3 linked regions of the Homo sapiens genome follow. The protein of the gene in region 1 purifies or fractionates together with the protein of each later gene. This does not show direct contact. Each region holds a gene or a part of one and is shown on either strand. Other genes may lie near its edges. The genes, in order: SLC44A2, PON2 and GALNT2.

Region 1 (3,651 bases):
GGGAAGTTGTTCGATCCAGTTAGAGAGTCTCTTCCCCACTGTGCGTCCTCCCCCACACCTAGCACAGGACATGCAACAGGGGCCAATTGTTTGCTGAACCTCCAAGTGGACATGAGAGGTTTCAAATCATCTGGGGCCTGCTGGGGCAATACCTGCCCTCCCCACCCCGGGGACGCCCACCTCTGGGTTGCAGGTTTTCGCAGTAAATGGGCAGGGGCTGTCATCAAAGATCTTATAGACCGCTTCGTTGGAAGTGGACAGGAAGCTGGAGGTTCGTTAAGGAAGCAGAGGTCTAGGACTGAGGACCCCAGGGACTTTTGTGGGAAAGAATCCATTCTCCCACCAGTTTCCAGCCCTATCCCTAAGCTGCAGGTCACTTCTAGGCAAAGTTGGTCTTTAGCCATCCCTGGGGTCAGAGATCAGTGTCTGGGGGCAGATACACAGCAGTGCTGGCCCAGTAGGCGATGCAGAGGCACAGCAAGAAGAAGGTGACCAGTGGGTAGAGCAAGGAGCACATGACGTATCCCACAGCCCTAGGGAAGAGCAGAGACACAGGCGTCAGGGCAAAAGACACAACTCTAGGGACAGCTCCATCCTGGCCCCTGGCACCCTGGCCCCCCACCTGCTGGCTTCTTTGATGAGTGCAATCGCGATGAGAATTCTCTTCCGGAGAAAGATGAGCAGCAAGATGATAATGACTTCAAGGATACTCAGAATGATCACTGCAAAGGGCAAAGGCTGAGCCGGCTGGGCTCCCCACTCCCTCCAAGGCCTCATGTGGGGGCAGGAATGGGAGACTGTGACTCACTAAAGGCCAACCAGGTCTGCCGTAAGTGCAGGTACACCCGGAAATCCGTCTGAAAGCCGAGGTCCACCAAAGAGACATCAGAGCCGGCCTCACCACGCAGTCGGGAGTACTCCATGTAGCAGTGAAATATTCCTGCATGGGGGAACCACAAGCTCAGTCCAGCAGTGCCTCCTGCAACTTTGCAAAGCAGCTACAACTGCCCCCATTTAACAGAAGCAAACATCGAGGCTTCTGCCTCAGGGACTTTACACTTGCAGTTCCCACCGCCCGGTGCATTCTCTCCCCATGGCTGGATCCCACACATCCTTAGGTCTCTGCTCAAGTGTCACCTTCAGAAGAGAACTTCCAGAACCCTTTCCCCCTACTTGGAATCATAATCATATGCTGCCATGGTCTAAGTTCTCTCTCTTTTTTTTTTTTTTTGAGACGGAGTTTCACTCTTGTTGCCCAGGCTGGAGTTCAATGGCACAATCTCGGCTCACCGCAACCTCCACTTCACGGGTTCAAGCGATTCTCCTGCCTCAGCTTCCCGAGCAGCTGGGATTACAGGCATGCGCCACCATGCCCGGCTAATTTTGTATTTTTAATAGAGATGGGGTTGGCCGGGCGCGGTGGCTCACGCCTGTAATCCCAGCACTTTGGGAGGCCAAGACGGGTGGATCACGAGGTCAGGAGTTCGAGACCAGCCTGACCAACATGGTGAAACCCCGTGTCTACTAAAAATACAAAAAAAAAAAAAAAAAAAAAAAATTAGCTGGGCGTGGTGGTGGGCGCCAGTAATCTCAGCTACTCAGGAGACTGAGGTAGGAGAATTGCTTGAACCCGGGAGGCGGAGGTTGCAGTGAGCTGAGATCGCGCCACTGCACTCCAGCCTGGGCGACAGTGAGAGACTCTGTCTCAAAAAAAAAAAAAAATAGAGATGGGGTTTCTACATGTTGGTCAGGCTGGTCTCGAACTCCCAACCTCAGGTGATCCGCCCACCTCTGTCTCCCAAATTGCTGGGATTACAGGCGTGCGCCACCGCACCCAGCTAGAAACCACTATTAATATGAATATTTTACTATGAGTGTCCTCAAATTGGATTGCCAAGCATTTTTCTTCCAGGAAAGTTCAAGGAATAATCAAAATATGGGCCAGGCACAGTGGCTTGCGCCTGTAATCCCAACACTTAGGGAGGCCAAGGCGGGAGGACTGCTCAAGCTCAGGAGTTCAAGACTAGCCTGGGCCACATAGGGAGAACCTGTCTCTACAAAAATATTAAAAATTTAGCCAGGCATGATGGTGCTTGCCTGTGGTTTCAGCTACTTGGGAGGCCAAGACGGGAGGATCACTTGAGCCCAGGAGGTCAAGGCTGCAGTGAGCTGTGATTGTGCCACTGAACTCCAGCCTGGGTGACAGAGTGAGACTCTGTCTCAAAAAACAAATCAAGGCTGGGCGCGGTGGCTCACGTCTGTAATCCCAGCACTTTGGGAGGTCGAGGCAGGCAGATCACGAGGAAGTCGAGACCAGCCTGGCCAATATGGTAAAACCCCATCTCTACTAAAAATACAAAAAAAATTAGCCGGGCATGGTGGTGTGCGCCTGTAATCCCAGATACTCGGGAGGCGAGGTAGGAAAATTGCTTGAACCCGGGAGGCAGAGATTGCAGTGAGCCGAGACTGCACCACTGCACGCCAGCCTGGGTGACAAAGCAAGACTCCGTCTCAACAACAACAACAAAACAACAACTCAAAAACAACAAAAATCCAAAATATGAAGCACTGTTTTGTTGAGCACGATATTGTGCCTCTGGATTCCACAGGCCTGAACTAAACAGGCCCCTACCCATATTTTATCTGCTCATTACCTCCTTGTCATTTAGTTTGCCAACTAGAAATATGAATTACCCTCATTTTATAGAGAAATAAATTGAAGCAGTCCGGGCGCGGTGGCTCCTGCCTGTAATCCTAGCACTTTGGGAGGCTGAAGCGGGCAGATCTCCTGAGGCCAGGAGGTCGAGACCAGCCTGACCAACATGGAGAAACCCCATCTCTACTAAAAATACGAAATCAGCCGGGCATGGAGGTGCATGCCTGTAATCCCAGCTACTTGGGAGGCTGAGGCAGGAGAATAGCTTGGACCCAGGAGGCGGAGGTTGCAGTGAGCCAAGATCGCGCCATGGCACTCCAGCCTGGGTGACAAGAACAGAACTCCGTCTCAAAAAAAAAAAAGAAAGAAATTGAAGCACAGTTAGGTTGAGGCACTTGCCCAAAGAATTGGCAAAGCCAGGATTTGAACCTCTGCTATTCTGATACCAGAGTATGCATCCTTAACTACGGTGCTGAGACATTTTTTCTTTTTTTTTTTTTTTTGAGATGGAGTTTCGCTCTTGTTGCCCAGGCTGGAGTGCAATGGCGTGATTTCGGCTCACCACAACCTCCGCCTCCCAGGTTCAAGCGATTCTCCTGCCTCAGCCTCCTGAGTAGCTGGGATTACAGGCATGCACCTCCATGCCCGGCTGATTTTGTATTTTTAGTAGAGACGGGGTTTCTCCATGTTGGTCAGGCTGGTCTTGAACTCCTGACCTCGGGTGATCTGCCTGCCTCGGCCTCCCAAAGTGCTGGGATTACAGGCGTGAGCCACCACGCCCGGCCTGACTTTTTTTTGTTTTCCTGATGGGCCATTTCCACGGGAAAGGGCAGGGCAGTGTGCGGATTCAGGAAAGAGAAGCCACAGGGAGGGGGTGACGCACCGTAGCCCAGCACCAGAATCACCATGATGATCATCACCCAGACCATAATACCAGCCAGGAAGCGAAGCAGGATGATGAACAGGAGGCTCATCGCCATGGCAATGACCAGGCC
Region 2 (3,651 bases), on another chromosome or scaffold:
TGACCAGTTCTGAGAGGGCTCTTCTTGATTGCAGCTGGAAGGCAAGATGAAGCTGCTAAGTTACTTGGGACTCTTGAACTGTCTGCATGATCCAGCACAGATGTAGTCAATCTGCTATTTGATATGAGTTTGCCTCCTCCCACTTAGTGTTTGGGCAATTGAAAGAAGGAAGGGAAATTCCAGGACAGCCAACCAGTCTAGGGGAGGGGAGGTAGAACTGGGGAAATACAAAAGTATCAATGAAAAAAAGGAGAAAGAACACATAGGAAACAGATGCCTAAGGAATGAGAGGCAGATCAACCTGAGGAAGCTGATTTAAAAGAAGAAAAAAAGAAAGGGAGGCAAGCAAGGTATTTGTAGAGAAACTCTGAAGGTGGCACTGTCAACTGATGGTTTATTTTTACTAAAAGAGTGCTGAGAACTCTGTCTGGAGTGAATGTGGTTACAACTATGAGGTACTGAGTTTATTACTGTTGCCAAATTGAGAGCAACTTAGCAATGACTGTCAAAACTCTAAACACATATTCTAAGGGAACAACAATCCCATTGTTAAGGACATATTCTACAGACACACAAACTCAACAGCAATGATGTTCACTGATTTGTTCATAGTTGCAAAAAACTGTAACAACCCAAATGTACATTAAAAGGGGAATGGTTAAATAAATCATGGAATGTGAAAATATTAAAAAGAACAAAGTAACTATATATGCTGATGTGGAAAGCTGCTCACACTGTTTTAGGAATGAAGAAGGTTGTGAAATATTTACACTAAAATTCTATTTGTGAAAAAAAGAGTCAATATATTTGTTTGCAAATGCACTGAAACTATCAGGAAAGATAAAAAAGGGAGCTTTATCTTTGGGGTTATTTCTGTTGGGGGTGATGAAGAGTTTGATGAGAGATTTTTATTTTTATTTACTTTCCATTTTATATCTTTCTATATTGTTTGCACATACACTGTTTATATGAACTTTGCACAAAAAATACTGTGCAGTTGTGAAGAAAAGGTAACATTATGTACAAACATAAGTTTCCAAAACCTAGTATTAAGTACAAAAAGCTAGTTTTGAAATATTATGCATAATTTGACCTCACTTATGTTTTTAAAAATTATGTACAGGAGTATTCATAAAAAGAAAAAGATGGAAGGACACTCAAAACTTGTTTAACAATGTTACCTATTCAGAGAAGAGAACATTTCCATGTAACCCGAGTTTTAATTTCTAAAGAGTAAAACAAAATATTAAATTGTCTCTCCTACCTCTAGAGAAGGATGTTGTTGTAAAGGACTAGAAGTGACTCAATGACAGTCTAGTTATTTCCACACTGTGGCTCTCAGAGTAAGATTATAAATAAATGGTCCCAGGCTTTTTAAAGTCTAAAAACCATTAGTCTAATCACAAACTCATCATTATAGGTGACAAATACAAAAACCAACTTTGCCTAAGGTTACATTGTGGCAGAATAGAACTAGAAACTAGGTGTTTTGACTGCTAATTCTTTTTGTTTCTAATCATACCATGAACCATATCTAAGGAAAGCCAATATTGGCTGGGCTCAGTGCCTCATGCCTGCAATCCCAGCACTTTGGGAGACCAAGCTGGGAGGATTGCTTGAGGCCAGGAGTTCAAGACCAGCCTGGACAACATAACAAGACCCTGTCTCTACAAAAATAAAAAACTAGCCATGAGTGGGGGCATGTGCCTGTAGTCTCAGCTACCTGGGAGGACGAGGCGGGAGGATCGCTTGAGCCCAGGATATCAGGGCTGCAGTGAGCCAAGATTGCGCTACTGCATTCTGGCCTGGGTGACAAAGTGAGGCCACCTCTCAAAAAAAAAAAAAAAAAAAATTAAAATTTAAAAAAAAGGAAAGCCAATATTTATTGTTCATTGATAATCTAACTACTAGTCTATTATGTACTAGGGACATGTACTTAGTAGATGATAAAGGGTAAAAGACAGCAAGACACAGACTCTACCTTGGAGAAAAACTGCAAACACACCAGAGAGACCCTCAGTGCTGGAGAAGAATCTGGACAGATCCCTCCTTATCTATAGCAAAATTGGGGCTTGCTCTTAGGAACCCCTACTCAAAGACTCAGACTCCACAATACATCCTACATAAAGTCAAGGGAAGAGGGAGACTCCCCCTCTGCAGTCATAGCTTAGAAGATAAAATAAAAACAAGTTTTTACAATACATATTGTGAAGTGCCGGTACATCAGTCCGTTCTCAGGCTGCTAATAAAGACATACCTGAGACCGGGTAATTTATAAAGGAAAGAGGTTTAATTGACTCACTGTTCCGTGTGGTTGGGGAGGCTTCAGGAAACTTACAATCTTGGTGGAAGGGGAAGAAAACACACCCTTCTTCACATGGCGGCAGCAAGGAGAAGTGCCGAGCAAAAGGGGGAAAAGCCCTTATAAAACCATCAGATCTCATGAGAACTCACTCACTATCACGAGAACAGCAGCACAGGGTAACCACCTCATGATTCAATGACCTCTCACTGGGTCCCTCCCACAACACGTGGGGATTATGGGAACTACAATTCAAGATGAGATTCGGGTGGGGACACAACCAAACCATATTGGTCAGTTACGTGTTAGCCATAAGATCAGATCCTAGTTATAGAGTAGTGAGCAGGGTAAATGCTGTCACTGCCTACATAAAGCTTCCTTCACTAGCTGACCACAAGGCTCACAGAACACAGACTGCAGCGGCCATACCTGACAAACAATACAGACGCAACAAAAATAGTTCAGAGAAGTCACAAAACAAGCAAGAAATCAAATGCTAAACATAGAATTACACACAAAAAAGAATAATTTACAGTGAGGGTAGGAAAGAAGAATAAATACAGGGTTCATCAGATCAAGAGGTTGACCAAAGAGGTTTTTGTTGATCTAATGTGATTTATCCACTGAAAAGCAGTAATTTCATGCTAAAATGCCATTAATGAGTGTTTTAATGTTAATGGCCAAAAAATGCAATGTGCCCAACAAGCATTTTCATATACATACCAATTCCTTTAATCAGGTGGCAGTGTGGAAGGTCTACAGATTCTACTTCTCTGGAGGCTTTAAGTCGATTTCTGTTACAAAGAAAAAAAAACAAAAAACAAAAAACTATTTGTTTATGTATTCCCTGCTTTGTTTTAGAAAGGGTTTAAAGAGGCTTACAGCAATACATAAAACACAGTTTAAGTCTAAAGCAGATGAAAGAGAAAATAGAAAGACAAGGGTAGGAAAATAAAACTGCACCAGAAATGAAGTTAAAACAAAAATGCCTATTGCAAAGTTCTATATACTGATGTGGGTTATTAAAAAAAAAAAGCCAATAACTCAACAAATAAAACTTATAATGCAAGTTCCTATGCAAATGTAAACACAGCACCATGTCACATTTCTCAGTGTTGGTGTTGTGGGAAAAGAGTTCCAGATGTAGAACCAGTAGCCCTGTCTTCCTTCTGAAGAGTCAAACGTGAAAAATGACTGTAAGCCTCACACAGAGACTGCAAAGAAGCCAAGAGAAAATGGCATTGCTCAGAGCCTGACACACCAAAGACATCCCACAAATAGTTACTAACAAAAAAGAAAAGAAGGTAGCATCCCTATGACAGTATTTTTTTAAATAAGAATGTATTTAT
Region 3 (3,651 bases), on another chromosome or scaffold:
GGGAACGAGGCTTTGTCAGTTCCCTGGGCCAGCAAACTTCAGACTGTATTTGCAGCAAGAATGGAGTGGGAACATGCTGGGAATATGAAAACTTTAAGGGAAAATGAGCCAGCGGAAGTTGCCAAGCTGGGCAAATAAGCTTCAATTTCAGATATATTTGGCACCTGTTGCATTTCATTTTTGGAATCCACAGACCCCTGAGGATAGAAGAGCCTAGACCCTGTACCCGGACTTGGTTGTGGGCATCTGCAGGGCCTCAGGTCTCGCTCTTGCTCCCAGGGTCACACACATAGTGCCTCTTGGAGGCCAGCAGGCTCCACCTGCGGAAGCTGTCCTGGTGCATCAGGAGGCCACTTCTTGGCAAACACATGGCTCATGGTGCTGCATTTCCAATTCCAAGGGTCTGACAGCAAAACCTAATGACTCTAGGGCATGCATCTTTCAATCCTCTTAAGCTCTCTGCCATCAGGCTTTTTGTCAACAGGGCTTTTGCAATGCCTAAGTTTGGATTTGTCTGCATGCTTTGAATTCATAGTCTGTCCGCCCTGACAGCCCCAGTGACTGAAGGATGGCGGGTGAGGGTTTCTGAGTGTCCTGGGCTGGCCAAGAATTTATGGCTCTGGACAAAGAGGCCTCCCAGCTCCCTCACTGCAGGATAGAGTGGCCTCAGGCAAAGAGAGAGGGAAATGGACAGGGGCCCAGGCAGTGGGGACAGAAATGCACAGAGAGGAGACCCCTGCGGGCCCCTGAGCTGGCTCTTATCATGGTGCCTCAAAGGCCACGAAGGAAAACCAGAAAAACAATGTCCTGGCTGTTTCACTAACAGAGAAGGTTAAGGATTAGCTGACATAACCTTTCCTTTGTTTTTTTGATGTTTACTATTATCTTATTATTTATTTTATTAATTTGGTCCAAAGAGAGAGGCTATAGCAGATTAAAGATCTGTTAAGAATGGCATCCTTGATTTTTTTTCTAAAGGAATTTCATAAAATGCTCTTAGGGTGAACGTGGCCCCGTTCCTCTGACCCAGAAGACCTGCACCCCCACACGGAACACCTGGCTGTTCTTGCCCCTGCTCTGACATACGCAGCTGCTTTGGGAGAAATAGAGCCTGGTAGATCTCAGCTCTTCGAATACTTGGGGAAATACAACATTCTGAAAGCCAGGCTTTCTAGCTATCTAAGGATCCCTCCTCTTTAATGTCCCCAAACATTTTACTTCTCACCATTTGCTGGGAATCGTTCCTGAATGTTATGTTTCCCACCCTAGGTACAGTCCTCCAAGCATGCCCGCCCTCCCGCTGATGTCTAATTCCATTATGCCCTGTGTGGCCAGCACAATTATCATCCCATTTCCCAGAGGGGGAAGCTGAGAAGCAGAGGCAAAATGGCCTGCCCATGATGACGGGGCCTGCAAGAGGCAGGTGGGGCCAAAGCCCACAATGTCTAGGACCGTGGCTGAGTCTCCCTAAAAAGTCCAAGTATTCTGTTTTCTGGGGTTAAGGCTTGCTTGCACACATATGTGTGTGTGTATGAATAAGCAGGGTCTCACTCTGTCTCCCAGGGTTGATCGTGGCTCACTGCAGCCTTGACCTCCCAGGCTCAAGTGATCCTCCCACCTTAGCCCCGAGTAGCTGGCATGCCATCACACGCAGCTAATTTTTTTTTTTTTTTTTAATAGAGACAAGAGTCTTGTTATGTTGCCCAGGCTGGTCTTGAACTCCTGGGCTCAAGCAATCCTCCCACCTTAGCCTCCCCAAAGTGCTGGGATTATAAGCGTGAGCCACTGCACCTGGTCAAGGCCCTATTTTATAGTTTTACTGTCTTCTTTTTTGATGTTAGACCATCAGTTAACCCTCTGCCCAGTGTCTATCTAGAATAGTTCATCTTCACACAGATGAAAGCTCTTTGAGGTCTTTGATAATTTTTAAGAGGGTAAACAGACAAAGTGCTCTTGGGGCTCCAGGGTGGGTGCGGTGAGGACATACAGGAAACTGGTGTGGTCATTCCAACGGAAGGGGACCAGGGTGATGTAGGCACAGGTGTTGGGCTGGGAAAGAGGGGTACAAGAAACCATGATACATGCAAGGGGCTGTATCAGCAGAACAGGGTCACACGTGGGCTTGGTGAGGGCGAGGGGGTTGAGGATGACACAGGTCTCCATCTGAGCAACCAGAAAGAGACCAGGCTGTCAGAGAAATAGCCAGGGTGAGCAGAGAAGGCAAAGACAGGCTCCAGCCCCTTGAATCCCACAAAGCCTCAGCTCCGTGAAGCTTCTCACCCCAGATTCCTGCAAGGAGGGCTTCATCATCTCTGGTCATAAAGGACGCCATATCTGTTCATGGAACCACATGGCTCGCAAAAGTGACAGAAGGTCAAGGAAGAGGAGAAAGGGAAACCCAGGAAGCTCTTTAAGGGAGCAAGCCTATTTTTTTTTCTCTTTATGAAGTCCTACTCGTTAAGCACACAGGTGGTTTTTACTCAGAACACACACTACGGCGTGAACACTGTTGTCACTGTCACTCCTGACAATGAGAGGGAGTGGTGATCAGATGCTGGTGTAGACGGGACGAGCTAGGCAGGGGCACCATGACAGACACCTACCGCCCTTCAAGTCAGCAGATGCCCCCACATACTGAAAGTTGTCCATATTAATGACATCGATGATGGGTGACACAACCCGAGTCCTGTCCTAAAATACAAAGAGAGGAGTAGTTATCAAAATCCCAGCAAAACAAAAAACCTGCCCAACCACAGAAGGCATTAGTATTAGGCAGGCACAGGGCAAACCCAACTGGCCCTTACTACCTACTACCCTAGGCCCTCAAGAACCCAGCCTCCCCACCCAGACCCAGAAGGTCTTGCTCTTGGCCATCCACAGATGTGCTGTGGCCTGCTGGGAGGCAGGGAGGGAGGTCAGGAGTGGGTGCGTAGCAGGAGTCACTCTAGGAGTGGAGACACCCATGGTTATGGGACAGGTAGCCATCAGTTCACCCAGCTAAAGGCAAAAACTGTGTTGCTGTGTCCCAAGGGTCCTTTTCTGTTTGCCCAAATACCATTAGTGATTTGTGAGCTGCAGTAAACTTCAGGAATGGAGTCACTGCTAAAATGCTCATACATCAAAATTAGGAATATATTTCTATGTGGGAGTGTGTGTGTGTGAGAGAGATGTGGTAAGTATCAATATTATCACAGCAGAAGGTTAACCAAATCAACCAGAGATTTCCAGATTCTACGTTTGCCTCATCTGTAATTCTATCTTTTTTGTTTTTTTGTTTTGTTTTTTTTTTGAGACGGAGTTTCACTCTTGTTGCCCAGGCTGGAGTGCAATGGCGTGATCTTGGCTCACCACAACCGCCGCCTCGCGGGTTCAAGTGATTCTACTGCCTCAGCCTCCCAAGCAGCTGGGATTACAGATATGCACCACCACGCCCAGCTAATTTTTGTATTTTTAGTAGAGATGGGATTTCTCCATGTTGGTCAGGCTATTCTTGAACTTCTGACCTCAGGTGATCTGCCTGCCTCGGCCTCCCAAAGTGCTGGGATTACAGGCGTGAGCCACTGCGTCCAGCCCCTGTGATTCTATTAAAAAAAAAAAATCCCCCTAGATTGAGCCATGTCTTTATGCCACATTGCCATCATTCTGGTAAGA

Evidence for each region.
Region 2: the proteins of SLC44A2 (region 1) and PON2 purify together in Homo sapiens (affinity purification with mass spectrometry; one large-scale study listed by BioGRID and IntAct). This does not show direct contact.
Region 3: the proteins of SLC44A2 (region 1) and GALNT2 purify together in Homo sapiens (affinity purification with mass spectrometry; one large-scale study listed by BioGRID and IntAct). This does not show direct contact.

What each region holds. Positions count from the first base shown.
Region 1 is NC_000019.10:10,632,045-10,635,695, reverse strand, and holds part of SLC44A2 (choline transporter-like protein 2), read right to left. Parts: coding exon 3,540-3,651; intron 941-3,539; coding exon 809-940; intron 723-808; coding exon 623-722; intron 534-622; coding exon 441-533; intron 266-440; coding exon 181-265; intron 1-180.
Region 2 is NC_000007.14:95,421,490-95,425,140, forward strand, and holds part of PON2 (serum paraoxonase/arylesterase 2), read right to left. Parts: intron 3,097-3,651; coding exon 3,026-3,096; intron 2,200-3,025; exon of another isoform or gene 1-2,199. UniProt on the Homo sapiens protein: Capable of hydrolyzing lactones and a number of aromatic carboxylic acid esters. Has antioxidant activity. Is not associated with high density lipoprotein.
Region 3 is NC_000001.11:230,245,103-230,248,753, reverse strand, and holds part of GALNT2 (polypeptide N-acetylgalactosaminyltransferase 2 precursor), read right to left. Parts: intron 2,692-3,651; coding exon 2,604-2,691; intron 1-2,603. UniProt on the Homo sapiens protein: Catalyzes the initial reaction in O-linked oligosaccharide biosynthesis, the transfer of an N-acetyl-D-galactosamine residue to a serine or threonine residue on the protein receptor.